4 linked regions of the Homo sapiens genome follow. The protein of the gene in region 1 purifies or fractionates together with the protein of each later gene. This does not show direct contact. Each region holds a gene or a part of one and is shown in the gene's direction. Other genes may lie near its edges. The genes, in order: IARS2, MTO1, DHX40 and DDX11.

The links.
Region 2: the proteins of IARS2 (region 1) and MTO1 purify together in Homo sapiens (affinity purification with mass spectrometry; 2 studies listed by BioGRID and IntAct, with this or other methods). This does not show direct contact.
Region 3: the proteins of IARS2 (region 1) and DHX40 purify together in Homo sapiens (affinity purification with mass spectrometry; 2 studies listed by BioGRID and IntAct, with this or other methods). This does not show direct contact.
Region 4: the proteins of IARS2 (region 1) and DDX11 purify together in Homo sapiens (affinity purification with mass spectrometry; 2 studies listed by BioGRID and IntAct, with this or other methods). This does not show direct contact.

What each region holds. Positions count from the first base shown.
Region 1 is NC_000001.11:220,132,117-220,139,141, forward strand, and holds part of IARS2 (isoleucine--tRNA ligase, mitochondrial precursor), read left to right. Parts: intron 1-2,285; coding exon 2,286-2,394; intron 2,395-4,692; coding exon 4,693-4,795; intron 4,796-5,047; exon of another isoform or gene 5,048-5,150; intron 5,151-5,801; coding exon 5,802-5,927; intron 5,928-6,891; coding exon 6,892-7,023; intron 7,024-7,025.
Region 2 is NC_000006.12:73,457,591-73,464,736, forward strand, and holds the start of MTO1 (5-taurinomethyluridine-[tRNA] synthase subunit MTO1, mitochondrial), read left to right. Parts: upstream 1-4,146; 5' UTR 4,147-4,264; coding exon 4,265-4,481; intron 4,482-7,146. UniProt on the Homo sapiens protein: Component of the GTPBP3-MTO1 complex that catalyzes the 5-taurinomethyluridine (taum(5)U) modification at the 34th wobble position (U34) of mitochondrial tRNAs (mt-tRNAs), which plays a role in mt-tRNA decoding and mitochondrial translation.
Region 3 is NC_000017.11:59,596,591-59,603,615, forward strand, and holds part of DHX40 (probable ATP-dependent RNA helicase DHX40), read left to right. Parts: intron 1-2,146; coding exon 2,147-2,261; intron 2,262-2,784; coding exon 2,785-2,893; intron 2,894-5,931; coding exon 5,932-6,026; intron 6,027-7,025. UniProt on the Homo sapiens protein: Probable ATP-dependent RNA helicase.
Region 4 is NC_000012.12:31,097,855-31,104,879, forward strand, and holds the end of DDX11 (ATP-dependent DNA helicase DDX11), read left to right. Parts: intron 1-30; coding exon 31-143; intron 144-322; coding exon of another isoform or gene 323-447; intron 448-2,705; coding exon of another isoform or gene 2,706-2,741; exon of another isoform or gene 2,742-2,780; coding exon 2,781-2,853; intron 2,854-3,117; coding exon of another isoform or gene 3,118-3,172; coding exon 3,173-3,276; intron 3,277-3,978; coding exon 3,979-4,128; intron 4,129-4,388; coding exon 4,389-4,457; intron 4,458-4,572; coding exon 4,573-4,673; intron 4,674-5,081; coding exon 5,082-5,166; intron 5,167-5,462; coding exon 5,463-5,541; intron 5,542-5,722; coding exon 5,723-5,877; coding exon of another isoform or gene 5,878-5,952; coding exon 5,953-5,982; coding exon of another isoform or gene 5,983-6,179; 3' UTR 6,180-6,945; downstream 6,946-7,025. UniProt on the Homo sapiens protein: DNA-dependent ATPase and ATP-dependent DNA helicase that participates in various functions in genomic stability, including DNA replication, DNA repair and heterochromatin organization as well as in ribosomal RNA synthesis.

The sequences.
Region 1 (7,025 bases):
TGTTCAACAGAGATACTGGCCTGTAGTTTTCTTTTTTGTTGTGTCTTTGCCTGGTTTTGGTATCAGGGTAATGCTGGCTTTGTACAGTGATTTAAGAAGAGTTTCCTCCTCTTCGATGCTCTGGAGTAGTTTGAGCAGAATTGTTGTTCTTTATATATTTGGTAGAATTCAGCAGTAAAGCCATCTGGTCCTAGACTTTTCTTTGTTGGGAGATTTTTTGTTACTTATTCAGTCCGGTTACTCCTTACTGTTCTATTTCTTCCCGGTTTAATCTTGGTAGGTTGTATGTGTCCAGGGGTTTATCCATTTCCTCCAGGTTTTCCTATGTGTTAGTGTACATTTGTTTATAGTAGTCTGTGATGATCCTTTGTATTTCTCTGTTGTCTGTTGTATGTCACCTTTCTCTCTCTTTTTTTTTTTTTTTTTTGAGATGGAGTCTTGCTCTGTTGCCCAGACTGGAGTGCAGTGGCCTGATCTCATCTCACTGCAAACTCCACCTCCCAGGTTCAAGCAGTTCTCTGCCTCATTCCTCCCAAGTAGCTGGGGTTACAGGTGCCCGCCACCATGCCTGGCTAATGTTTGCGTTTTTAGTAGAGATGGGGTTTCACCATCTTGGCCAGGCTGGTCTTGAACTCCTGACCTCGTGATCCACCCGCCTTTGCCTCCCAAAGTTCTGGGATTTTACAGGCGTGAGCCACCGCACCCAGCCCCATGTCTCCTTTTTCATTTCTGATTTTGTTTATTTGGATCTTCTTTTCTATTTTCTTAGTCTAGCTAAAGATTTGTTTTCACTGCATATGCATTTACCTTCTTACATTATCTCAGACTTTCCTGGCTGCACAGACTAGATTAAACTCTTTATTTTCCCCTTGGTAACACCCATCACAGTTATTTCTTTTCTTTTTTTTTTTTGAGACAGATTCTTACTCTGTCGCCCAGGCTAGAGTGCAGTGGCACAATCTCTGCCCACTGTAACCTCCACCTCCCAGGTTCAAGTGATTCTCCTGCTTCAGCCTCCCAAGTAGCTGGGATTACAGGCGCCCACCACCGTGCCCAGATAATTTTCGTGTTTTTAGAGATGGGGTTTCGCCATGTTGGTCAACCTGGTCTCGAACTCCTGACCTCAGGATTTGCCAGCCTCCACCTCTCAAAGGGCTGGGGTTACAGGCACGAGACACTGCACCCGGCCCCATCACAGTTATTTCTTGCTTAACATAAAATCTACCCTACTAGGTGTCAGCTCCAAGAAGGCAGAGTCCAGATTTCCCCAGGGTCTAACACAATGCCTGCTATATAACAAGTGCTCAGTAATATTGGTGCAATTGAATTGGTTTGATTCAGTTATTTAAATTTTGTTTCCCCACCTCCACTCAGTTAATCTTTCTTACATGAAGATTACAACACTAAATTTTCAGTCTTAGGACATAAGGACAAATCATAATTTTACAAATAAAAGGGATTATGGGGGCTTTGAGAGTTGTGAGTTTAGATTTAAAATATAGATGTAATCTTTATCAACGACCTCATGTTACTTTTTTTTGAAAACCCTTTTATTTTGAAAAGTCATAAAGTATCATGAAGAATTACAGCATGCTCTTCATCTAGATTTCCCAACGTTAACATTAACATTTTGCTACAGTTGCTTTATATATCCTATGTATATATATGTAGAGGAAAAGATGCATCTTTTATCTCAATATTTTAGTATATATTTCCCCAAAACATGGATAGTCTCTTAACATAACCAACACAGATATCAAAATTAGGGAATTAACATTGATTCCATACTGTTAACTGTCTATAGAACTTATTCCTAGGTGGAAAGAGGAAAAAAAAAAAAGGACCCAAGATCTAATCTGAGATCACATGTCACATTTAACTGTCATGTCTCTCTAGTTCTTGTTCTGTGTCTTTCATGACATTTCATGACATTGCTTGACATTCATGCAGTACAGGTTTATTTTGTAGATGGTCTCTCTGGGTTTGTGGGATGCATTGTCATGATTAGATCCACGTTATGCATTTTAGGTAGGAATATCACAGAAAGGATACTGTGTTTATTTCAGTACATCATTTCAGAAGTCACGTGATACATCTCTGTCCCATTACTACTGGTGATGTGTAACTTTGGTCACTTTCTTGGTTAAGGTGGCATCTGTCAGTTTTCTCTATTGTAAAGTTACTTCCCTTCCTCCCCACTAATTGTTATTAATAAGTATCTTCTTTTTCTATTTTAATTAACTTAAATTTCTGGGTTTTTTTTTCTTTTAATACTTAATTTTGAGGTCCTGACCAAAGAGCAGATTTGTACTTGGAAGGAAAAGACCAGCTCGGGGGTTGGTTTCAGTCATCCTTATTAACAAGTGTGGCAGCAAGGAAGAGAGCACCTTATAAGTAAGTATTTATGCCTGAACCAACCTGCTGAGTACCTGCCAGTGTGTGAAGCACTATGCTGAGTACTACAGAGATGATAAGGCACCACTCTTGATTGCTTACAGTGTCCTGTAAGAATTTGAAGTAAAAAAAGAGAAAGGAAAAAGGAGACAACACCAAGGTGTCTTGTGAGTGTGATGCAGATCATAACTCTTTGAAGAAAAAGTCAGCATTGACTGGAGTAGTTGGGGGAACTTATGTAGTTCTTTGTTGTTGTTGTTTTTTTTTTTTTTTTTGAAAAAGGATCGCATTCAGTCACCCAGGCTGGAGTGCAATGGTGTGGTCAGAGCTCGCTGCAGCCTCCGTCTCCTTGGCTCAAGCAATCCTCCTGCTTCAGCCTCCTGAGTAGCTGGGATTACAGACATGCACCACCACACCTGGCTAATTTTTAATTTTTTTTTAGAGGTGCGTTCTCCTCCCATTGCCCATGCTGGTCCCAAACTCCTGGCCTGAAGCAGTCCTCCTGCCTTGGCCTCCCAAAGTGGTAGGATTATAGGCGTGAGCCACCATGCCTGGCCTAGAACTAGATCTTGATCTATGGTAAAACTTGACTAGGAGGAATGTAGGGAAGGATATTCAAGGTTGAGAGAAGACAGCCTGAGTGCAGATGTCCTTTATATTTGTAATATCCACAGTGGCTAGTGAACTGAAACATTGCTTTCATGAATTTTATTAAATTAGGTATTCTCATTTAGTACACATAATTACTTTTTCAAACGTGTGGGTGAAAGTACTAATCAGAAAGATTCCTAAATAGCTTAGCTTAAGATTGTGGCTCTCTTAGGATAAAAACCCATCCCAGAACATTTCACATGTTTCTTTTTTTTTTGAGATGGAGTCTTGTTCTATTGCCTAGGCTGGAGTGCAGTGGTGCGATCTTGGCTCACTGCAGCCTCTGTCTCCCGGGTTCAAGCGATTCTCCTGCCTCAGCCTCTCGAGTAGCTGGAATTACGGAGCATGCCACCATGCCCGGCTAATTTTTGTACTTTTAATAGAGACGGGATTTCACCATGTTGGTGAGGCTGGTCTCAAACTCCTGCTCTCAAGGGATTCACCCTCCTGAGCCTCCCAAAGTGCTGGGATTACAGGCGTGAGCCCCCACGCCTGGCCCTTTTACATGTTTTTGTTTCTTAACATGCGTTTTAAAGACCAGTAAAAGGGCAGATCCTATTTTTTTCAAATTGTCTTTTGAAAATAATTTTGAGATGATAATCTGCTCTTTTTAAGACATACTTTTTCCTGGTTTTATTTTTTCATTTAAAATTTTTTTTTTTTTTTTTTTTTAGTGAGTTATATAGTTTTTCCGCTATCACCACAAGAGGTTTTATAACATTTCCAACACACTAAAAAGTTTTCTCATGCCCATTTGTGACTAATCTCCACTCCCACCCCAGGGCCCCTGGCAACCACTGATCTCCTTGCTGTCTCTGTAGTTTGCTCTTTCTAACCTGGTTAGTTTTAATGATAAAATCAGTACATAGCAGAAGCTCAGAAAATAATCTGTTTAGTGATGAAAATATCTAAAGTTTTCCTTTGTGTAAGTCGAGAGTTAACTGTTTGACTATTGTGATACATGAGCTAAGAATGACTTTTTTTGTTTGAGATGGAGTCTTACTCTGTCTCCCAGGCTGGAGTGCAGTGGAACGATCTCAGCTCACTGCAATCTCCGCCTCTTGGGTTCAAGTGATTCTCATGCCTCAGCCTCCCAAGTATCTGGGACTACTGGCACACACCACTATACCCAGCTAATTTTTGTATTTTTAGTGGAGACAGGGTTTCACCATGTTGGCCAGGCTGGCCTCGAGCTCCTGGCCTCAAGTGATCTGCCTGCCTTGGCCTCCCAGAGTGTTGGGATTACAGGCGTGAGCCACTGCACCCAGCCGAATTTGACTTTTAAGGAAAGGTTTCGGCCGGGCAGGGTGGCTCATACCTGTAATTCCAGCACTTTGGGAGGCCGAGTTAGGTGGATCCCCTGAGGTCAGGCGTAGGTAGGAGAATCCCTTGAACCTGGAAGGCAGAGGTTGCAGTGAGCCGACATCATGCCACTGCACTGCAGCCTGGGCAACAAGAGTGAGACTCCATCTCAAAAAAAAAAAAAAAAAAAAGAGAAGAAAAGAAAAGAAAAGGTTTTATTCATAATCAGTCAAGAAAAATCATATTTTTGTGTCAAACTTAGATACTCTTTTTAAGCTGTACCTAATCTTCAAAAAGATAATTATAATTGTGTTTATCATTAAAATAGCTGATTTGTCCCTTTAGGACAGTGATTGTTCATGGATTTACCCTTGGAGAAAAGGGAGAAAAGATGTCCAAGTCTCTTGGGAATGTCATTCATCCTGATGTTGTCGTTAATGGAGGACAAGTAGGTGATTCTCTAAAATGTATTTTATTTTCGTTTTAAGGATCTTAAATTGGCAGCCAAAGCCCTTAATATAGTTACTTCAATGTAAAAATAAAAACTATCTTTTATACTCTCAAATAACACATGATTGTAATGAAGAAGGCAGAGGCTGGGATTGTGGTCCTTTTAACTTATTTCAGGCCTGACTCTCCAGTTAGGTCCCAAACCACGCTGTTTCTTTTTTAATTGTCTGAGAGCCTTTAAAATGTGTAGATCCTTTTGTGATTCGTAAGCGTGATGATTGGGTTTTCGCACTATTGTGTGAGGTGTGCCTCCCTCAAACCTTGTTACAGTGTTGGCACATTGCTGTCTGAAGTGAAAAAAGAATATGTAAAGTGTGATTGTGTAGTTAAATGGAAATGATGAAAAATGAGATTGCAACTTCAAAATGCGCATTTCATTATTATATTGTTGAAAATTATACACTTTAAAGCAGGTCCTAAATGTACATCAAATCTGAGGTTGCTGATAATTTGGGGGGGTTTTTGGAGCTGCTTTTGTGAATTAAATCATTTGTCTGTTTTTTTCTATTTTTTAACTCCTGTAGCTTTTTACTGCCCGCCTAACATCCTGTAACCGTTCATTGTTTTGTGTACAGAGTTGCTAGGAAATAGTGAAAGGAAAAGCAGTCCTTCCTCTTCCCCTCCCTTATTATAGAGACCTCCCTGGCACTGCTGTGTGTCTAACCACCAGCTGTAATAGAGGAAACAGACATGACCAGGGAAGAGATTAGGTATGAGCATTTGTGCATTGAACAAGATTGCAGAGCACGCTCTTTCTTTTTCCAGTTTTGTTTTTAGATACAGTCTAATTTGAGATTGTTAGCCCGCATTTCATTACAGTGCTAGTATAGTTTGTACTTACATTGTGCTCAAAAATATCTGAATAGGAGCTTTACCTAAAACATTTGTTCGGCTAATTGGAATTGAAAGCCATTGTGTTTATATATTTTTTTCTCAATGAAAAGGATCAAAGCAAAGAGCCTCCGTATGGTGCTGATGTCCTTCGCTGGTGGGTAGCTGATTCCAATGTCTTCACCGAAGTTGCAATTGGCCCATCCGTGCTCAATGCTGCCAGAGATGATATTAGCAAGGTTAGAACTATTATTCTTCCTATTTCTAAAGGACAAGTTTGTCAAATCATTGTTTTAAAAAATGAGACACATTTTGTTTGGAACTGAAAAAAACTGAATGAAAACGAGTTCTTCATTTATTGTGAGATTTTAAGAATCTCCTGTGTTGGCCAGGCATGGTGGCTCATGCCTGTAATCCCAGCACTTTTGGAGGCAGAGGCAGGTGGATCACGAGGTCAGGAGTTCGAGACTAGCCTGGCCAACATAGTGAAACCCTGTCTCTACTAAAAATACAAAAATTAGCTGGGCATGGTGGCATGCACCTGTAGTCCCAGCTGTTCGGGAGGCTGAGGCAGGAGAATCACTTGAACGCAGGAGGCGGAGGTTGCAGTGAGCCGAGATCGCGCCACTGGACTCCAGCCTGGCGACAGAGCAAGACCTTGTCTCAAAAAAAACAAAAAACTCCTGTGTAAATTTATTTGTTTCAAAACATTGGTAGTAATACCAGTAATTTTATATAATTTGTATATAATATCCTTTATATTTTATTAATATATAAAATGTAATATAGCATAGTATAGATTATATTAATTTTGTATACTTTTATGTACTCAATAACCTTTCACATTTTTCCATGTATCTTTATTTCATTGTGAAGCAAGTGAAATAACATTATTCTGACCCACACACATGAATAAACTGGGCTACTGAAAGGTGATTTGCCCCAACGTAATAAAGAAATATAATGAAAATTCAGTCGTTAGGCGTAAAATCCAGTGGTTGTTCCTATAACTGGGCTATTGGAATAAGAGTTTGTTGTGTACTTTTTGTTTTTTATTTTTTTACATTTGTAGTCTTATTTGGAATGATAATAAAAATACCCCACTAAGAAAATGACAAGAGTTAGTAATAAAATAACTTTTCAGTGAAAATTGAAGGCACCATTAGATTTTTTTAACTGCATATTTTTTCTTCCTATGAATAGCTTAGGAATACACTTCGCTTTCTTTTGGGAAATGTGGCTGATTTCAACCCAGAAACAGATTCCATCCCTGTAAACGATATGTATGTCATAGACCAGTACATGCTACACTTACTGCAGGATTTGGCAAACAAGGT
Region 2 (7,146 bases), on another chromosome or scaffold:
ATCAGTTTCTAAAGTCCCCTTAAGTCACTGGTGGTTTCTTTAACCAGAAGCTGCAAGCAACAATCCACTGGGCCAGATCAAATATCTCTACTATTGGCCTACCAAAGGAGGAGAACTCATTCTTTATTCAACCTTTCTGCAGCAATCAGTGTCCAAATCACAGAGAAAATGACTGTTTAGTTGAGTCTTGATGTGGAACTTGGATTTTATCTAGTAGGAAACCCCAGGAAATTTATTTGTGGGTATATATTTTATCTAGTTGACTTTACCACTTCTTTTTTTTTTTTTTTTCTGAGACAGCATCTCACTCTGCCACCCAAGCTGGAGTGCAGCAGTGCAATGTCAGCTCATTGCAGCAATTCGTACCTCAGCCTCCCAAGTAGCTGGGATTACAGGCACACGCCACCACCCTGGCTAATTTTTGTATTTTTAGTAGAGATGAGGTTTCACCATGCTGTCCAGGCTGGTCTTGAACTCCTGGCTTCAAGTGATATGCCCACACTGGCTTCCCAAAATGCTGGGATTACATCTTACTCTGTATGCCTCATGTTTATCTCTAGTCAGCCTTGGGTATGAGAACATCTGGTAGAGCCTACCTCAGTCATAAGCCCAGAAAGTGATCTCCCTGTGACTTTGGAGCCTTGACCTATCTATAACCTGTCCACAGCCTTCTAGACAGAGAAACTAAAATTCCCACCTTGCCTGCATACAGCTGCCTGGGCCAGAGAATCATACCCCAGAAGCTGATCCTTTTGCAAGCCCCTCTGTGAAGCCCACCTGTGGCCCAGGAGGTCTACACAGAGCTGCTTCTTCCTCTGTAAACCCCCCACTTTGCACTGCACATGCTTTCTAAAGGCTTTCTGTACTTGAGATATGAACGCCTTCCCACTTTAATTTTTGGATACTTTCCCTCATCCCTAAGGTATCATCTAGAGTTTCCTTATGTCTTATTGTTATTTTTTTTGGATAGAAAAGTGTTCATGATTATTAAGTAAAGAATAGATTACAAAACAATGCACACACTATGATCTAATTTTTATTAAAAAATATTTAACCGAAGTTGCAGAAAGCGAAAAAAAAAATTTAAAGAAAAAAATATCAAAAATAGGCTGGGAGCAGGGCTCACACCTGTAATCCCAGCACTTTGGGAGGCTTTAGGCCAGGAGTTCAAGACCAACCTGGGCAACATAGTGAGACACTCCCTCCCTCAACCCCATGTCTACAAACAAACAAACAAAAAACAACAACAAAGAAACCAAATTAGCCAGGCCTAGTGTCCACCCACATCTGTGGTCCCAGCTATTTGGGAGATGGAGGTGGGAGGATCACTTGAGCCCAGGAGGCGGAGGTTGCAGTGAGCCATGATAGCGCCACTGCACTCCAGCCTGGGCAACAGAAGGAGATCCTATTAAAAAAAAATAAAGAAAAGAAATAATGTTTACTGTTTTTTGTTTTAAGGGTTTTTGTTTTGTTTTTTTGAGACAGGGTCTCAGTCACCCAGGCTTGAGTGCAATGGCACCATCTGGGCTCACTGCAACCTGTGCCTCCTGGGTTCAAGCAATTCTCCTGCCTCAGCCTCCTGAGTAGCTGGGACTGCAGGCACGCAGCACCATGCCAGGTTAATTTTTCTATTTTTAGTAGAGATAGAGTTTCGCCATATTGGCCAGGCTGGTCTCAAACTCCTGGTGGACTCAAGTGATCCGCCACCTTGGCCTCCCAAAGTGTTGGGATTACAGGTGTGAGCCACCACTCCCGGCCTATGTATTTAATACTTTTTATAATTAGAACAATAAAACTGCCACACTGTAGGGAGACCCCTGAAACTATTGCTACGGAATAAAAGATGAAATGCTCCTGATTATTGTAAATACAAAGTTGCATGCAGGATTGTGTAAAGAGAATGCCAGGTTGGACTGCCAGAATGAGCCAACAGCGGGTGATGTGCTTCCCCCTGCAGAGAGCCTATGAACGGACGTGCATCACCAAGATTCCTATCCCAGAAAAGCAGATGTTCATAGCTCTGGGAATGGAATGCAACCCTTGTGGAAAGCCTCTAAACGGACGCATGAGGGGCGCCTGTCCCTGTGGGTAAGATAGGGCTATAAATGCCCTCATCTTGCCACGGCTCTTCTAGGCCTTTTTAGGGTTAAGGCATACTCCCTTCTGAGAATTTCTGGTCTAACTGATTGTCTAGCTTCACATCCTGTTTCTATGGATTGTTTGTAACCAGCTTTTGCTGCAACTGTTACTGCTGATTAATATCTTGCTAATCATAGGTTATGGAAAGACTGTTTCTGTTTTAAGGCTCTGTTAGAAATTACTGATGCACACAATATATTGTAAATTCTTATCTCTGTATACTGTACTTCTGCATACAGATGTTATGTTAAAGAATTACTTCATCCCCATGTGACCATCTCACCTCATAATCAAATGACCCTAAATCCCTCACTAACCTACCCCTGCCCTCACTAAACTTAATAATAAATGCTGGTATATCCAGTGTATTAGCAGCATTGCAGGACCAGAAGGCAGTGACCCCCCTGGACCCAGCTTTCAATATCTTCTGTGTGTCTATTATTTCTCGACCTGCCAATCCGCCTGGGAACAAAGAAAGAGCCCCATTGCATTGTGGGCTGCTGGCCAGATCCTGCAATACCACACTTGTTTTATTCTCCAGTCAAACGTTGCCTTTCTGAGAAAGGCTGTGAATTGAGAAAGGCTGTGAATTCCAAAAGGCTGGACATTTAACCTCCAACCAACCGATTCTTCTAATTAACCAATTAGCCATCATGAATCTCTCTCTCTCTTTTTTTTTTTTTTGAGACAGAGTCTCACTCTTGTCGCCAGGCTGGAGTGCAGTGGCACGATCTCGGCTCACTGCAACCTCTGCCTACGGGTTCAAGCAATTCTCCTGCCTCAGCCGCCCAAGTAGCTGGGACTACAGGTGCATGCCACCACACCTGGCTAATTTTTTTTTTTGTATTTTAGTACAGACGGGGTTTCACCATGTTGCCCAGATTGGTCTCGAACTCCTGAGCTCAGGCAATCTGCCCCCTTCGGCCTTCCAAAGTGCTAGGATTACAGGCGTGATCCACCATGCCCAGGCACCATCATGAATCTTTCAGTCCACAAATATATTTGAACTCCTTTCGAATCTATTCTTTTTCTTTTCTTTTTCTTTTTTTTTTTTTGAGACGGAGTCTTGCTCTGTCGCCCAGGCTGGAGTGCAGTGGCACAATCTTGGTTCACTGCAACCTCGGCCTCCCAGGTTCAAGCGATTCTCCTGCCTCAGTCTCCTGAGTAGCTGGGATTACAGGTGCATGCCACCACTCCCGGCTAATTTTTTTTTTTTTTTTTTTTTTTTTTTTTTTTAGTAGCGATGGGGTTTCACCATGTTGACCAGGATGGTCTCCATCTCCTGACCTTGTGATCCACCTGCTTCGGCCTCCCAGAGTGCTGGGAATACAGGCGTGAGCCACCGCGCCCGGCCCGAATCTATTCTTATTTTCAGCCCTTAGTTTTTATAGACAAACAGAAGGTGACGGTGTATCAGATTGTCAGATCACAAAGATCTGATAAGGCAAAGTGATCAAATTCATTGATCGTAGGTGGCCACCTGGCGATAAGGACTGCAGGGCCTAAGAAAGTACAAAAGATGACCTTTAGTAGGAGCTCCCAACCCAGAACCACAGGAAATCAAAAAAAGCCCGCACGGGCGGATCACGAGGTCAGGAAATCGAGAACATCCTGGCTAATACGGTGAAACCCAGTCTCTACTAAAAATACAAAAAATTAGCCGGGCGTAGTGGCGGGCGCCTGTAGCCCCAGCTACTCGGAGGCTAAGGCAGGAGAATGGCGCGAACCCGGGAGGGGGAGCTTGCAGTGAGCCGAAATCGCGCCACTGCATTCCAGCCTGGGCAACAGAGCGAGACTCTGTCTCAAAATAAATAAATAAATAAATAAATAAATAAATAAATAAATAAATAAATAAATAAATAAATAAAAATAAAAAATAATAATAATAAAAAAAGCCCGCACGAACTAGGAAAGAAAATACACAACCGGCCCTCCGTGCGATCACCCATCTCCCTCACCAGGAAAGTAGCTCCAAACCGCCAATCAGCGGCGACGCTGGACGTAGACGTCCTACCCCGTGATATTAAAGCAAGATGGCCGCGCCCTGCAGATTGTCTCTTGTTGCGTAAGTTTTTTTGACCGTCACTCGTGTCAGCTTCAAAGTCAGATAGATTTTTCTCCCAGCATGTTCTACTTCCGAGGCTGTGGCCGTTGGGTCGCGGTTTCCTTCACCAAGCAGCAATTTCCGTTGGCACGGTTGAGCAGTGACAGCGCGGCGCCCCGGACTCCGCACTTCGACGTGATAGTCATTGGTGGAGGACATGCCGGGACTGAGGCAGCCACCGCCGCCGCTCGGTGCGGCTCTCGGACTCTGCTCCTCACTCACCGCGTGGACACGATCGGTGAGGAGCGCGGGTGCTGTGGAACTTGGCGTAGGACGCAGGCTGCTTCCTTCCCGCCTCCCCCGGTCTGAAGCGGGGGACCTCTTCCTTTCCTCAAAGCTAGTGAGAATCCTACCTTCTGTGGTTTTAGCCTCGATCAGTGTCTCGCAAGGATCAGGCGGGCCAGGCCAGAACTCTATATTAGTCTATTCTGCGAACCATAGATTATGCTGCTGCTGACAGTCGTCCGTTGTAGGAGGTTGGGGTTCGGGGTCAGTGCCTTGGGAAAGGGAGCTACCAACTACTCGCTGGTAGCTTCTTAGTTCATTGCTGCGTTTACCTTCTACTATGTTACTCCAGATAAAGGGTGAATTAACATTATTAACAATGGTTTATGGCCAGGTGCAGTGGCTCACTTCTTTAATCCCAGCACTTTGGGATGCCAAGGCAGGTGGATCACCTGAGGTCAGGAGTTTGAGACCAGCTTGGCCAACACGGCGAAACCCCGTCTCTACTAAAAATACAAAAATTAGCCGGGCATGGTGGCGGGCGCCTATAATCCCAGCTACTCGGGAGTCTGAGGCAGGAGAATCGCTTGAACCCGGGGGCAGAGGTTGCAGTGAGCCGAGATTGCGCCACTTCACTCCAGCCTGGGCAAAAGAGCAAAACTCCGTCTCAAAATAATGATAATATTAATAAAATAAAAAAATCCTTTATTAAACGGTTCTTGTGTTTTTATTTAAAAACATTTTTTTAGAGACAGGGTCTCGCCATGTTGCCCAGGCTGGAGTGCAGTGACTACTCATAGGCACGATCGTTGCACATTACAGGCTCCGCTTTCTGGACTCAAGAACTTTTCCTGCCTCTGCCTAACCAGTAGCTGGGATTGCAGGTGCTCAGTACTCTGCCCAGCCTGATCTTTGTGTTTCTGTCAAGATTTTGTGATGCCTTTTGGAAGAACCATGCTACCTTTTTTTTTTTTTTTTCTTTTGAGACAGAGTCTTGCACTGTCACACAGGCTCAAGTGCAGTGGCGCCATCTCGGCTCACTGCAAGCTCCGCCTTCCGGGTTAATGCCATTCTCCTGCCTCAGCCTCCCGAGTAGCTGGGATTACAGGCACCCACCACCACGCCCGGCTAATTTTTTTTTTCTTTGTATTTTTAGTAGAGTCGGGGTTTCACCATGTTAGCCAGGATGGTCTCGATCTCCTGACCTTGTGATCCGCCCGCCTCGGCCTCCCAAAATGCTGGGATTACAGGCATGAGCCACCGTGCCCAGCGCCATGCTACCTTTTGCATCCTATATTCCTTCTGGGTTGTCGTCCCTGGATTTTGTGTTTAGTACTGGACAGTACTTTTTTTGCTCTAATGGGTAATGGTTGGATGGCCGTTCTGTAGCATCATGATAGATACTAGCTAAAACATCAACTTGTAAATTATGTATACTTTTGTCTTTCCTCCTTCCTTTTGCTTAGGAGCGAGCAGTAATTAGAATATTTACTTGTTTTGTAAAAGTTGTGAATAAATCACTTATTTATTCCTGAAATTCTTCTTTAAAATAACCATTCAGCTCATAACTGTGAAGAAATATATACTATTAACTGCGGTTTTGTGGGTGGGGGAGAGGAGGCTATATGATTTCCTAAAAGATTATACTTTTCTCATCATACATTCAGGTGGGTTTTTTCTTTTCTTTTCTTTCATTTTTGAGACAGAGTTTTGCTGTTGTTGACCAGGCTAGAATGCAGTGGCGCGATCTTGGCTCACTGCAACCTCCACCTCCCGGGTTCAAGCGATTTCCTGCCTCAGCCTCCCAAGTGGCTGGGATTAGAGGAGTCTGCCACCACGCCCAGCTAATTTTTTGTATTTTTAGTAGAGATGGGGTTTCATCATGTTGGCCAGGCTGGTCTCCAACTCCTGACTTCAGGTGATCCACCCGTGTCAGCCTCCCAAAGTGCTGGGATTACAGGTGTGAGCCACCACACCTGGCCTGTTGTTTATATTTTTAAAAAATAAAGACCTAGTGCTTGCTTTGGCAACAACATAAACTAAAGTTGGAATGATATAGGGATTAGCATAGCCCCTGCACAAGGATGATGCACAAATTTGTGAAGTGTTCCATATTTTTAAAAAATAATAATAAAATAAAGACCTAGGCCAGGGGTGATTACTCACGCTTGTAATCCCAGCATTTGGGGAGCCCAGGAGTCTTCTATTTCAAAGGAAGAAGGAGGAAAATAATCTACCACAGCTGTCATTCCTGTTTTTACAGTAGAGAGACTAAGGTATGTTAGGTAACTTGCCATGATCACAGAGCTCATAAGTGGTAGGTCTAGAAATTGAGCCAGATATCTCTTTCACACACACTCCTCATAATGACACTTCATGCTCATAATCACAGTGCTATCCAGTCTCCCTGTGGAGACCATTAAAACTTGTGGAGGTCTTGTCTGGGCATGGTGGCTCATGCCTGTAATCCCAGCAGTTTGGGAGGCAAAGGCGGGCAAATCACCTGATGTCGGAAGTTCGAGACCAGCCTGACCAACATGGAGGAACCCTGTCTCTATTAAAAATAGAAAATTAAACACCCAAGAATGATCAATAAATACTAAAAAAAAAAAAAAAAAGAAAGAAAATTAGCCAGGCGTGGTGGCGTATGCCTGTAATCCCAGCTACTTGGGAGGCTG
Region 3 (7,025 bases), on another chromosome or scaffold:
AGTCTCCCGGAGCAGTTCAAGAAATGGAGATTAATAATCATTTATATCTTTTCCTTACCAGGGTCATTTGTATGTTTGTATGGTCTGAGATAAATCATATTCTTTTTTATTTTTTTGTCTCTAGCTGCTTCATTCAGTTGCTACCTAGGTAACATAGTTGGAAGCTACTTAAAGCATGGGATAGAAGACTTTATACCTTCATCAGTGTTTTCTTTAATCAAATTACTTTCCTCCTAGTAACAGGAACTGCTGCTTTGCAGATTCACATCGTATTCTATAGTAAATGCTGCTCCCTGGATTCAGGCAACATTGTGCCTCTGCTAGATCTAGCTGTGATAGGTATAGGGAATAGGAATTGTGATGTGACGTGTTAGATTGAAGGAAAGGATCCCTATGCAGTTTTGAAAAAATGGCACTCTGAAAGATTAGCCCTGGATAAAGTGCTGTATGGGGAATTTGGGCAATCAGAGAGCACATGAGTCCTGAATGGGATCAGGGGAAGTGGTATCGAAGTAATTAACAGATAAATCTCAAAAACGTAATGTTGAGCAAGAGAAAACAGACACATCAAGTACATACTATACGATTCATTTATACAAAGGTTAAAAATGGGCAAAACCCATCTGTAGGATTAGAAGTCAGGATATAGTTATTCTTGTGGAAGGGAATGGGTAGTTACTCGAAGGAGGGCATAAAAGGGGGCTGTTGAGATGCTGGTGATACTGTTTGTTGATCTGGGTACATTGGTATGTTGTGTTTGTGAATATTATATGAGCTACACACTTACGTCCTGTGTAATTTTCTGTATGCATATTATACTTCAATATTACATTAAAAAAGAAAATGTTCGTAGTAGGTCAGTTCTGCATATATGGAGATCATGTCTAATTGCCCATAATTGGGAATTGGATAAATAAGAACTGGTTAAATTGTGTTATGTTCCCCATACTCCTGGGGAATACCATATCATTGTTTTTTTCTTTAGACAAGGTTTCACTCTGTTGCCCAGGCCAAAGTGCAGTGATGCGATCACGGCTCACTGTAGCCTCAACCTCCTGGGCTTGGGCCGGGCACGGTGGCTTATGCCTGTAATCCCAGCACTTTGGGAGGCCGAGACGGGCAGATCACAAGGTCAGGAGATCGAGACCATCCTGGCTAACATGTGAAACCCCGTCTCTACTAAAAATACAAAAAATTAGCCGGGCGCGGTGGCGGGCGCCTGTAGTCCCAGCTACTCGGGAGGCTGAGGCAGGAGAATGGTGTGAACCCGGGAGGCGGAGCTTGCAGTGAGCCGAGATCGCGCCACTACACTCCAGTCTGGGCGATAGAGCGAGACTCCGTCTCAAAAAAAAAAAAAAAAAAACCTCCTGGGCTCAAGCGATCTTCCCACCTCAGCCTCCTGAGTAGCTGGGACTACAGGCATGCATCACCATGCCTGGCTAATTTTTGTATATTTTGTAGAGACAGGATCTTGCTTTGTTGCCTAGGCTTGTCTTGACCTCCTGGGCTCAATTGATCCACTTGCCTTGGCCTTTGAAATTGCTGGGATTACAGGTGTGAGCTACCACACCTGGCCCTATATTGCTATTTTTGAGAAAGAATAATTCTATATGTACTGATATGGAGTTGTTATTAAATAAACAAATTTTCAGATTATATATTCCATTTATAGAAAAATGAAACACTATGTACATATGCTTATATATACATAGAAATTACCTGGAAGGACACACACTAAATAATGAACAGTACTTTGTCTTGAGGATTGGTTTATGGGTAGTGTGACTGGGGAACATTGAACTTTTACATGATATTCTTTTATACCATTACATTTTTTTTTCTGTAAGCATGGATTACTCTTATAACAAAACTAATTTAAAAAGTAAATTACAAATACTATTTTTAAAAGGCAAATAGATTGGGAGAAGTAATGTTGCTATTCAGGTAAAATCTCCAAAGTGATATGAAAAGAAAAAAAGGAATTGTGGGAGAAATAGAGCTTCCTAAGAGAAGTTAAGAAGAGTTAATATAGTTCTACCTTACTTCACCCCAGAGGATGAGGCAGATTTTAATGAGTTTCTGAAAGCAAAGTGATTGTAGGCACTTAATGCAAAGTATAACTGAATTGCCTCTCCAATTCTTTTAGTTGATCCAGAGTACCAGAAGGAAGCAGAACAGAGACATCGAGAATTGGCAGCTAAAGCTGGAGGATTTAATGACTTTGCAACTTTAGCTGTCATCTTTGAACAATGCAAATCAAGGTATGTAAGGTAGTCCTTTGTCCTGAAAAATGTCAATTTGATGTATAGTTCCAATACGTACTTATGATGTGGCTTGTGACACTAACGTTCAGTGAAGATGATATTGACTTCAAGGTATTTTGAATTTCAGTGAAATTATCTATGTCAGATGACTATTGCTTAGTAGGCATTTATTATATAACATTGATTCTCTTCTTTTCTCCTCAAACCTTTACTGAAAATGACCTTATAGAATTTTGCTTCTATATAGGTAGCCTAGATTAAAAAATGATTGGATATTTGTTATTGCATATATAAGTAAAGAAATCCATTTACAAATTATTTTTTAATTTAGTCAGGGGCACATTCATTAATTTAAATGTTTTTTTCAAGTTTCCTAAAATTCTTTTTTAGTACTTGGACAGGTCTCCTGAAGGAACTGACAGTTGTTTATGGGTTTCCACTTTTGTAATAGAAATGAGAATTTTAGATTGTCTTTTACTTAGAGAAGATATTTTAAAGATACCAGTTTTTTGTTTTGCAGTGGAGCTCCAGCTTCATGGTGCCAAAAACACTGGATTCATTGGAGGTGCTTATTTTCTGCATTTCGTGTGGAAGCTCAACTTCGAGAACTAATCAGGAAGCTTAAACAGGTGATTGCCGTAATGTTTTTTTTCTTGAGTAGCATTTTGGACCTATATATTTCATATTGAAGTTTCATTGATGTACATTAGCACCCTTTCTATTCTACCACCCTTCCATTCTATTTGTTTCTATGACCTCCTTGACCCCATGAAACATTCCTAGTAGTGATAAAAGAATTGTCTTCACAGAAATGAAGATATTTAAAAATTGCTTTCCTGATATATAATTGACGTGTGATAACCTACACATATTTAATGTATACACTTTGATGAGTTTTGACATTTGCGTAAAACAACTATCAAGATAATGGTACATATCCATCATCTCCCAGTTTTCTCATCCTCCCCCCCACCTTTTTTTTTTTTTGAGATGGAGTCTCACTCTGTCACCCAGGCTGAAGTGCAGTGGCGTGATCTCGGCTCACTGCAATCTCCACCTCCCAGGTTTAAGCAATTCTTCTGCCTCAGCCTCCCAAGTAGCTGGGATTACAGGCTTGCGTCACCACACCCGGCTAATTTTTGTAGTTTTAGTAGAGATGGGGTTTTGCCGTGTTGGCCAGGCTGGTCTCAAACTCCTGACCTCAAGTGATCCACCTGCCTCGGCCTTCCAAAGTGCTGGAATTACAGGCATGAGCCACTGCACCTGTCCTCATTCCCTTTCATAATCCATTGTCTCACCTACTAGGCCCTCCTGCCCCACCAACCCAGGTAACCACTAATCTGCTTTCTGTCATGATACAGTAAGTCCTCACTTAATGTCATCAGTAGGTTCTTGGAAACTGTGAGTTTAAGCAAAATGATATACAGCAGGCCCTAGAAAAATATTGTTTTATTCACCATTGTTTTAACACTGATGAGAGAAAAAAAAAAATCTTAAAAATTTTGCTTAACTTTGCAGTTTTTAAGAACTTATCATTGACATTGAAGACTTACTGTATATAAGTTTGCATTTCCTAGCATTTTACATAAATGGAATCAAACAGTATATGCTCTTTTTTTTTTGGTCTGGCATCTTTTACTCCTCATGATTATTAGTTTTTCAATTTATATATCTTATTTTGGTAAAATAATTAATATAAAATTTACCTCTACTGGGCATTGATGATTAACCCCTGTAATCCCAATGCTTTGGGAGGACGAAGTGGGAGGACCACTTGAGGCCAGGAGTTCAAGACCAGCCTGAGAAACAGTGAGACCCTGTCTCTACAAAAAAATTAAAATAATTAGCTTGTTGTGTTGGCACACACCTGTAGTGCTAGCTACTCAGGAGGCTGAGGCAGAAGGATTACTTGAGTCCAGGAGTTTGAGGTTGCAGTGAGGTATGATGCCACTACACTCTAGCCTGGGCAACAGAGCAGCAGCACCCTGTCTCAAAAAAATTTTTTTTTTTTTTTTTTTTTACTGTTTTTATGCGTACAGGTCACTGCACACTTAAAACATTTACAATGTTGTGCAGCCCTTACCACTTCTCCATCTCCAGAACTTTTTTTTATCATCCCATACTATAATAAAACTCCATAACCATTCAACAATAACTCCCCATTCCCGACAGTGCATGGTAGCTCACGCCTATAATCCTAGCACTTTGGGAAGCCGTAGTGTGGGGATCACTTGAGCCCAGCAAGTTTGAGACCAGCCTGGGCAACACAGTGAGACCTTGTCTCTACTAAAAAAAAAAAAAAAAAATTAGCCAGGCGTTGTGGCACACACCTGTAGTGTCAGTTACTCAGCAGGGTGAGGTAGAGGATTGCTTGAGCCTAGGAGATCCAGGCTACAGTGAGCTGTGATCACACAACTTCACTGCAGCCTGGGTGACAGAGTAAGACCCTGACTCAAAACAAAAACAAAAAAACCTACCCATTATCTTCTTTCTCCAGCCTCTGGAAACCACTGTTATAATTTCTCTGTTTCGTTATGAGTGTTTTCTGTTTGCCTTATCTTAAAGTTCATTAATCTTTTCTCCTGCAGTGTCTAGTCTAATCTGCCATTAATCCCATCTAGTATATTTGTCATCTCAGGTGTTGTATTTTCATCTCTAGATGTTGGATTTCAGTCTTTAAATTTTTACATTTTATTTTTCAGGTCTCTACTTTTTGAACATATGTAATCCAGCTATACAGAAAATTATAATAAAATATAATTAGATCTGTGTCAGTTCTAGGTTGATTTTGATAGATGTCCTCATTATGGATTGTGTTTTTTTGCTTCTTTACATCATACCTGATAATTTTTCAGCGGATGCCAAACATTGTGAATTTCACCTTGTTGGGTGCTGGATATTTTTGTGTTCTAGTTACTTGGAAATGGTCTTTGGTCTTTCTTGTTGGGTCTTGCTTGCATGATTTGTTAGGTGGGATCAGAGCAGTGCTCAGTGCAGGGCTAGTTATTCCCCTCTACTGAGGCAAGGCCCATCTGAGTACTCTTCCTAACATCACATGAATTACTGTAGTGTAGTATTCTCATGTGGCTTATAGGAACAGGCGCCATTACTAGCCCTGTGAAAACACCATGCCCTTACTTATCCTTTTAAGAGGTTCTTTTCTTGGGCTGGTAGTTTCCTCACATTCATGTGCTAATCACTACTCAGCTCAACACTTGAGGAGGACCTTCTGCATCTCTCTGGAGTTGTGTCTTTGTGCACTTCTCTTCTCTCCTGAACTCTTGTCCTGTGAATTCTAGCCACCTTGGTCTTCCTGGACTCCCAGCTTTCTCTCCCTAACCCAGGGAGTTCTCTGAGTTCCATTTGGGCTTTACTTCCCTGTACCTTGGTCTGCAGTCTTTATCAAGGCTGAAGTTGGGGCAGTTGTTGGGCGTACTGCGTTTATTTCCTGTCTCTGTCCTTTATTGCCTGATATTACAGTGTTTTGGAAATCATTATTTCATGTATTTTTTCCATTTTTTTGGTTTCAGGTGGAAGGGTAAATCTGGTCTCTCTTAATCTATGTTGGCCAGAAACAGAGGTCTTTAGAAATGTGGATTTTTCAAAATAAAAGATTATTTCAAATTGTACTATGAGATTTACCACTCTCTACATATTCTTTTTATAGCAAAGTGATTTCCCAAAAGAGACCTTTGAAGGCCCTAAACATGAAGTACTACGAAGATGTCTTTGTGCGGGCTATTTCAAAAATGTAGCTCGAAGGTAAGCAATAAAGACTTGAGAGATGGATCAAGATATAATACTGTATTTGACTATAATATTGGACTATTTAATATTAAACATTGAAGATTTGATTTAAGCTCTGTGATGATTATGACATGAATTACAGTGACGAGGGAGAGCTACAGTGACGAGGGAGAGCTGCAGTGGCTCAGAATGTGGTATTAGAGCTCAAGTAGGGTAGGAGGGGTATGTTTGTAGGGTGGCTGTCCAGCATGGGTTATCTTCACTTAAGGCAAGTAACAAGAGTTTTCTTTCAGAGAGGTGGCCCTGTGTATAGTGTGAAAGCCAAGTAGGTTGAGCATAGCATCCCTGAGGAAGGGTAGCTTGGCATGGAGTGCTAGGGCTTGAGCAAGGTGGGGAGGGGTTATTTGGTTTGGGGCATCAGTCAGAGTGTAGTGAGGAAGGCATCTTTATAGAGAAAGGGGTAACAGTGATGGTGATGGAGATTCATTAAATACAGAGGAATTGAACACATAACTCTGTGAGTGATAATGGTGAAGGGAGTTAGAAATAGCGAAAGTGAGAAAATAGGAATGATCTCTGTGCTGTTGGATTGAAATTTCAGTGTATCATGATGAAGTTATGGGTTTCATTATAGATGGATGCATGGATGGACACTGGAATAAAAATAGATGTTAGTGTGTGTATATAGAATGTATTTGTATGTATGTAAATATTTATATGTATATATGCCCTAGCTCTGAGATAATAACAATGAATAGACATAGTGCCCAGATCTTGACTTGGGACATCCATCTGCCACTTAAAGGAGTCAGGGGTCTTTGGAGAAATGGGGCTGGGAAAATGCAAGATGAGCCCAGAATATCTTATTTTGCCAGCAAGTAAAGAAGTGATTAACAAAGGTTGAGGCCACGTCAGAAGAACATAGGAGCCAGCATGAAGAGGCCCCAAGTAATCAAATATGAGACACTTTAAGCATCAAAATAAGTAGTGATAGTAGCGGATTATTATGCACTT
Region 4 (7,025 bases), on another chromosome or scaffold:
CACTCACCTCCCACCGATCTGTTTTTCCAGGCAGCCTCAGTCAGAGCACCCTGAAGTTTTTGCTCCTGAATCCAGCTGTGCACTTTGCCCAAGTGGTGAAGGAATGCCGGGCAGTGGTCATTGCGGGGGGTACCATGCAGCCGGTAAGGACACCTTTCCCAGCCCCTCGTGCCCCAGGTGTTGGGATGAGATGGGGGCTTGGGAGAGATGCATTATCAGTCCTGTTCTCTCCTGGGGCCCCAAGCCAGAAAGGGTCAGCTCGAGCAGGCCCAGTGGTGTCCGCTGGGTGACACTGCTATTCTCTCACTGCTGTGCCTTTTAGGCTGCAGGAGCAGTGGAGACTCCTCTGCTGCTCCATTCTGTAGCCCCAGGATCACATGTCTCCCAGAGAAAGCTGTTCTGTGGTTTCAAACTCAAGGAAAAAAATCATGATTCCACTTTTAAAAGGTTCATTTTGATGTATATGAATATAATAGTCTTTGTAGGCGTAATTTTTACTTATGTGCATAGCTGTTTTAAAAACAAAAGTACGGCTCCCTCCATGTGCTGTCACTGGAACTTGCTCTTTTCACTCAGCAGCCAGAGGGTCATAAACCCTGTCTCCTTGTCAGCAAGCATGCACGTATTTCAGTATCCCAGCTGTGCTGGATTCCAGTTACACAGATATATAGCATTTCATGTAGCTGCTTCTCTCTTGTTAGGTGTGCAAGCTATTTGCAGTTTTCTGTTTTGAGCATGACTGTGATAAATATAACCGCATTTCTGCACAGTGGTGACTCCTACCTAGCGAAGGGCCTCCTGGACAAAAAGCTGCTGGGAATCCTGAAGCAGTGCTTCCCAGCCCCAGCTGCCTTAGCTTTTGATTTTTATATTTTTGTATGGATAGATTCATAGTTTTATTCATTCGGCATATTAAAAGTTGTTTACAGTAATTATTGTTTCTGACGTTCACATTGTGAGAGCCCCTTCCTGCTAGCTCAGGTCCTCCCCGTGGCCCGGTCAGTCTCGCCTCCAGCACAGCAGAATGTCATGGGATCACCATGGGTGTCCTTTCCCCACACTGGATTGATTCATTTCTCCAAGCTGCTCTGGTTTCTTGTAATGGGGAATGACATTTAGAAGTCAAGCTGTGGGTGCTAGGGTGTTTGTCGTGCTCCTGGGGCGTTTTGGTAGACAGATCTAGGAAATGTTTTCAGAATGAATCCATACTGGTATTTCTTTCTTTCTTTCTTTTTTTTTTTTTTTTTTTTTGAGACACAGTCTCGCTCTGTCTCCCAGGCTGGAGCGCAGTGACCTGATCACGGCTCTCTGCAACCTCTGCCTCCGGGGTTCAAGCGATTCTCATGCCTCAACCTCCTGAGTAGCTGTGATTACAGGCATGTGCCACCACACCCAGCTAATTTTTGTATTTTAGTAGAGATGGGGTTTTACCATGTTGGCCAGGCTGGTCTTGAAATCAGGTGATCCGCCAGCCTTGGCATCCCAAAGAGCTGGGATTACAGGCATGAGCCACCACGCCTGGCCCATATTGGTGTTTCTAAGTAAAAATCAAAGGATTTGTTTACTTGACCTTTTATTGTACCTCTTTTTCTCTTAAGCCTGAACATGTGTGCTACATTAACATACTTATCTGCTCTATCCTATAATATACTTAAAAGTTTTGAAATCATAGTACCAATATTACTTCTAACAATAGATCTGATTGAAATTGCCTTTCCTCTTTGCCTTTAGAGTGTAACCCACTAAGGATGCCTGGTCACTAGGCTCTAAAGTCACGTGGAACCAGGCTTCTCTCCGTGTGCTTCTGTTGTCAGTTTCATAGATAACTAGGCTGTTTTTGTTTCATTTTCTTTTCAATTTTAGAATTTGCTTTTTTCTTTTCTGACTTGTAGTTTTTAAATATGTAAATATTTGTATGGCTCAAAAGTCAAAGCAATATAAAAAGATCTATTCAGGAAAGCCTCACTCTCATCCCTTTCCAGCCCATTCCCCACCCCCATAGGGAATCCGTTTTACTAGCTTATCCTTTCAGTCTTTCTTTTTCCCCTAAATAAGCAAAAACGTGTCTTCATTTTTCCCTTTCCTGTTTTATTTACACAGAAGGCATCTTAGTCAGTTGTCTGACCATCGCTCCTCTAGTGGGCTGCGTGGTTCTCTGTTGGACAGATGTAGGGAGCTTATCCAACCAGTACCCTCTGGATAGGCAGGCGCATGATTACAGGGAAAGGTCCGGGGGCACATGCTGTTTGGTATTTGTGGGCTGTATCTTCTCACTGGACTCCTAAATATGGGATTCCTGGGTTAAAAAGTATAAATATGTTTAATTTGTTAACTACTGTGAAATTTCATGAGAATTGTACCATTCTGTATCCCACCAGTACTGTCTAGGAATGCCTGTTTCTCCAGAGTGGTTACTTTTGGATTTTTGCCAGTCTAACAGGTGAAAGCCTGGAGATTCTTATTCAGTAGTTTGGGCTGGGGCCTGGCCATGTGTATTTTTGAAAATTTTCGCTGGTGATTTTGCTGCATGGCCAGGGTTGATAATGACTGTGCCAGATTTGCTGGATTTCCTTTGCTGTTCCTGCACATAGTTTAAACGAGACTGCCAGCACTGGGTATCAGTCACCATTTTTCTTTTTGTTAGTTTGCCATCAGCCTTTTCTTTGACCTCTTCTTTCAGTTTGTGTGTACTTGCTGTCTCTTAGCCCAGACTTCTCGCTTCCTTTCTGCTGGGCCTCTGAGGGGTCATGGGGCCGTGACGCTGTGGCCTTGGTCTACAGGTGTCTGACTTCCGGCAGCAGCTGCTGGCCTGTGCCGGGGTGGAAGCTGAGCGCGTGGTGGAGTTTTCCTGTGGTGAGAAGCTGTGCCCAGGGTGGGGCAGGCTAGAGGTCAGGTTCTGGCCCCCGTTTTCTGTGGGTAATACCTCATACTGCGACCAGGCACAGGGGCGGAGGAGACCCCGGGGTGGGAGCCTCACCCTTCGTGCGCTCGCCCAGGCTCTCCTGCTTTGCTCCCTGCTGCCTGCTGCCCAGTGTGACTGGTGATGGTGGGCGGGTGAGCGCTGTCAGTCGCTGTTCCTGTGCTGGATGATGGGGCAGGGAAATGCCCTCTCTGCAGTGTCTTGCAGCACACCTGCATCTCCAGTTTTCGGCCCCTCCCTGGCTCTTACCAGGTCACGTGATCCCTCCAGACAACATCCTGCCCCTCGTCATCTGCAGCGGGATCTCCAACCAGCCGCTGGAATTCACGTTCCAGAAAAGAGAGCTGCCTCAGATGGTCAGTCCCAGCCAGCTCGCCGCACCACAGCCTGGCCTCAGGCAGCAAAGGGTTTTCTGGGGCAGGGGCGCTCTGGCCCACCCTGAGTGTTTTCAGTGTTGGGGAAATTGCACAGGGACACCCGCTTAGAGCCACACAGAATGAGCGGCGTCGATCTAGATGCTTATGGAGGAAGGTCTGAGCTTCCCCGCCCCTCACGCCTTAGGCTGCGAAATATGTATTCATAAAACCTCCAGGCATCCTCTGAGGACGCCTCACACAGGAGAAAGCTGCTAGTTCCCTTTGGCTCTCTTGCCCTTTGGTTATATCTGCCCCTGCCGGGGGTAGGGATGTGGGGCTTGGGGGCATCTCCTGTGGTGTGCCTGGGGTGTGCAGCCCCTGATTGTCGTTGTGGTGCCCATCAGGACCCTGGACAGAAGAAGGGAGGACTCAGTGCCAGGGCAATAGGGAGGCCCCCTAGGGACGCTAGTGCTGTGACATGTGTCAGAAAGGCGCAGTCAGCAGCAGCGGCTGGGTGTGTTTGGTGGGAGGTGGCACCTACCACCCCGTGGTTCCCACCCAGGGGAGCCAAGTCCTCTTCCTTGGCTGTAGTCCTGCCGAGGGTCTCTCCTCAGTTTTGAGTCTCAAGGTGAAGACGCGGTTTGTGGGTGGCTGAGGGGTTGCTCCATGGGGGCTCCCTCCCTCCCTCCTTTCCTTCCTTAGATGGACGAGGTGGGTCGCATTCTCTGTAACCTGTGCGGTGTGGTTCCTGGAGGGGTGGTCTGTTTCTTCCCCTCCTACGAGTACCTGCGCCAGGTCCATGCCCACTGGGAGAAGGGTGGCCTGCTGGGCCGTCTGGCTGCCAGGAAGAAGGTGAGTGGCCTGTCGGCAGCCTTCCCACTTGTGAGGACAGTGCCACTGAGTCCTCCTGGGAGCTCTCGTGCTCATCGGGTCAGGACAGGCTTCTGGCTCCTCATCCCCACCGCTCCCAGTCCCTGACTACAGAGGATTTCCCCCAAAGTCCCTGGCTGTGAGGTTCTCCAGTCCCCTGGCCAGAAAACACAAGGCCACGAGCAGACTCGAGACCTGGCACCCTGAACCTGTCTCTGGGAAATGTCCTCTGTCTTTCTCAGATATTCCAGGAACCTAAGAGCGCACACCAGGTGGAGCAGGTGCTGCTGGCATATTCCAGGTGCATCCAGGTGCGGGCGTCATGCTGGGCTTGGGTCTGAGATCGTGTGGGGGTGGCAGCTGGAAACGTTGTGGGTGTCATCCAAGTTTTGGCTCAGCAACTCAGCGTCTGGGTTTCTCCTACAGGCCTGTGGCCAGGAGAGAGGCCAGGTGACAGGGGCCCTGCTCCTCTCTGTGGTTGGAGGAAAGATGAGTGAAGGGATCAACTTCTCTGACAACCTAGGCCGGTAAGTAGTGGTTCTGCTCGTCTCCTGGGCCGTGATACATGGCCGGCCCTCACTCCCAGCAGCTGGGCCCCTGCCTGCTCTCTGCTGCCATTAGAGCCCACAGCTGGGCTGCGACTGCTCAGACCAGCCAGCTGGAGGGAGGGGCTCAGCAGCTCTGGGTTTGGTCCTGGGAGAGCAGTTGGATTTTAGGCTACCCATTGCTGTATCAGGACCCAGTCAATTGGCCTAGACGGGATCTCTCAGCCGAACAAGCCCTCTCCAGGTGGTAGGTACAGAGTGGAGAGAGGCTGAGTTTTGATCACAGTCGGAGAGGCTGAGGGAAGGGGTAGAACGGAGCAGCTGGTGACGTGGGTGATGACCCGGGAGGTCCTGACGTCCACCTGCTGGGCTCTTGTCTCCCCCGCCCAGGTGTGTGGTGATGGTGGGCATGCCCTTCCCCAACATCAGGTCTGCAGAGCTGCAGGAGAAGATGGCCTACTTGGATCAAACCCTCGTGAGTGACCCCAGTGTCACAGAGGGTGACAGGAGAGTAGGCAGTGGGTGGGAGTGGCATCACCCCCAGGGCTGATACAGCCAGGCCTTCCCCGCTGCGCTGGCGTCTCCTGCCCCCTCCGGAAGCTTGGATGCCCCTCCACACCCTCTTGATCTTCCCTGTGATGTCACCTGGACCCCTGCTGCTGGCATTGGCCACGAAGCCTCCTGGTCTGGCTCCAAAGCCTGGCAGGGTCTTTTCCCAGGGGGAGCTGCAGGCAGGGAACAGTCCTGATGGGTCTTCCCCTTCACTCCCAGCCCAGAGCCCCCGGCCAGGCACCCCCAGGGAAGGCTCTGGTGGAGAACCTGTGCATGAAGGCCGTCAACCAGTCCATAGGTGAGCCTGGCTGCCTCCAGCTGGGTGGACAGATGGGGGCTGGAGAAAGGGAGAACAGGAAAGAGGGGTTGCCTGCCCTGTTTCCTATATAAGTCTGAGGAAGGGGAGGGGGTCGCCGTGGGAATGTGCTGTAGGGGGGAGGCAGGTGTTGCTCGGAGCCCCAGCCTCTGTTCCTATGCAGGCAGGGCCATCAGGCACCAGAAGGATTTTGCCAGCGTAGTGCTCCTGGACCAGCGATATGCCCGGCCCCCTGTCCTGGCCAAGCTGCCGGCCTGGATCCGAGCCCGTGTGGAGGTCAAAGCTACCTTTGGCCCCGCCATTGCTGCTGTGCAGAAGGTCAGTCCTACCTTTTTCTTTCTGAGAGCCTCCCCACCCCGAGATCACATTTCTCACTGCCTTCTGTCTGCCCAGTTTCACCGGGAGAAGTCGGCCTCTTCCTGATGGGCAACCACACCACTGCCTGGCGCCGTGCCCTTCCTTTGTCCTGCCCGCTGGAGACAGTGTTTGTCGTGGGCGTGGTCTGCGGGGATCCTGTTACAAAGGTGAAACCCAGGAGGAGAGTGTGGAGTCCAGAGTGCTGCCAGGACCCAGGCACAGGCGTTAGCTCCCGTAGGAGAAAATGGGGGAATCCTGAATGAACAGTGGGTCCTGGCTGTCCTTGGGGCGTTCCAGGGCAGCTCCCCTCCTGGAATAGAATCTTTCTTTCCATCCTGCATGGCTGAGAGCCAGGCTTCCTTCCTGGTCTCCGCAGGAGGCTGTGGCAGCTGTGGCATCCACTGTGGCATCTCCGTCCTGCCCACCTTCTTAAGAGGCGAGATGGAGCAGGCCCATCTGCCTCTGCCCTTTCTAGCCAAGGTTATAGCTGCCCTGGACTGCTCACTCTCTGGTCTCAATTTAAAATGATCCATGGCCACAGGGCTCCTGCCCAGGGGCTTGTCACCTTCCCCTCCTCCTTCCTGAGTCACTCCTTCAGTAGAAGGCCCTGCTCCCTATCCTGTCCCACAGCCCTGCCTGGATTTGTATCCTTGGCTTCGTGCCAGTTCCTCCAAGTCTATGGCACCTCCCTCCCTCTCAACCACTTGAGCAAACTCCAAGACACCTTCTACCCCAACACCAGCAATTATGCCAAGGGCCGTTAGGCTCTCAACATGACTATAGAGACCCCGTGTCATCACGGAGACCTTTGTTCCTGTGGGAAAATATCCCTCCCACCTGCAACAGCTGCCCCTGCTGACTGCGCCTGTCTTCTCCCTCTGACCCCAGAGAAAGGGGCTGTGGTCAGCTGGGATCTTCTGCCACCATCAGGGACAAACGGGGGCAGGAGGAAAGTCACTGATGCCCAGATGTTTGCATCCTGCACAGCTATAGGTCCTTAAATAAAAGTGTGCTGTTGGTTTCTGCTGAGTTTTTTATTGATATGTGCTGCTGTTTTCTCTGGAAGCCTCTTTAGGGAATCGAGGAGCGCACTGGTGCAGGGGCTGGGT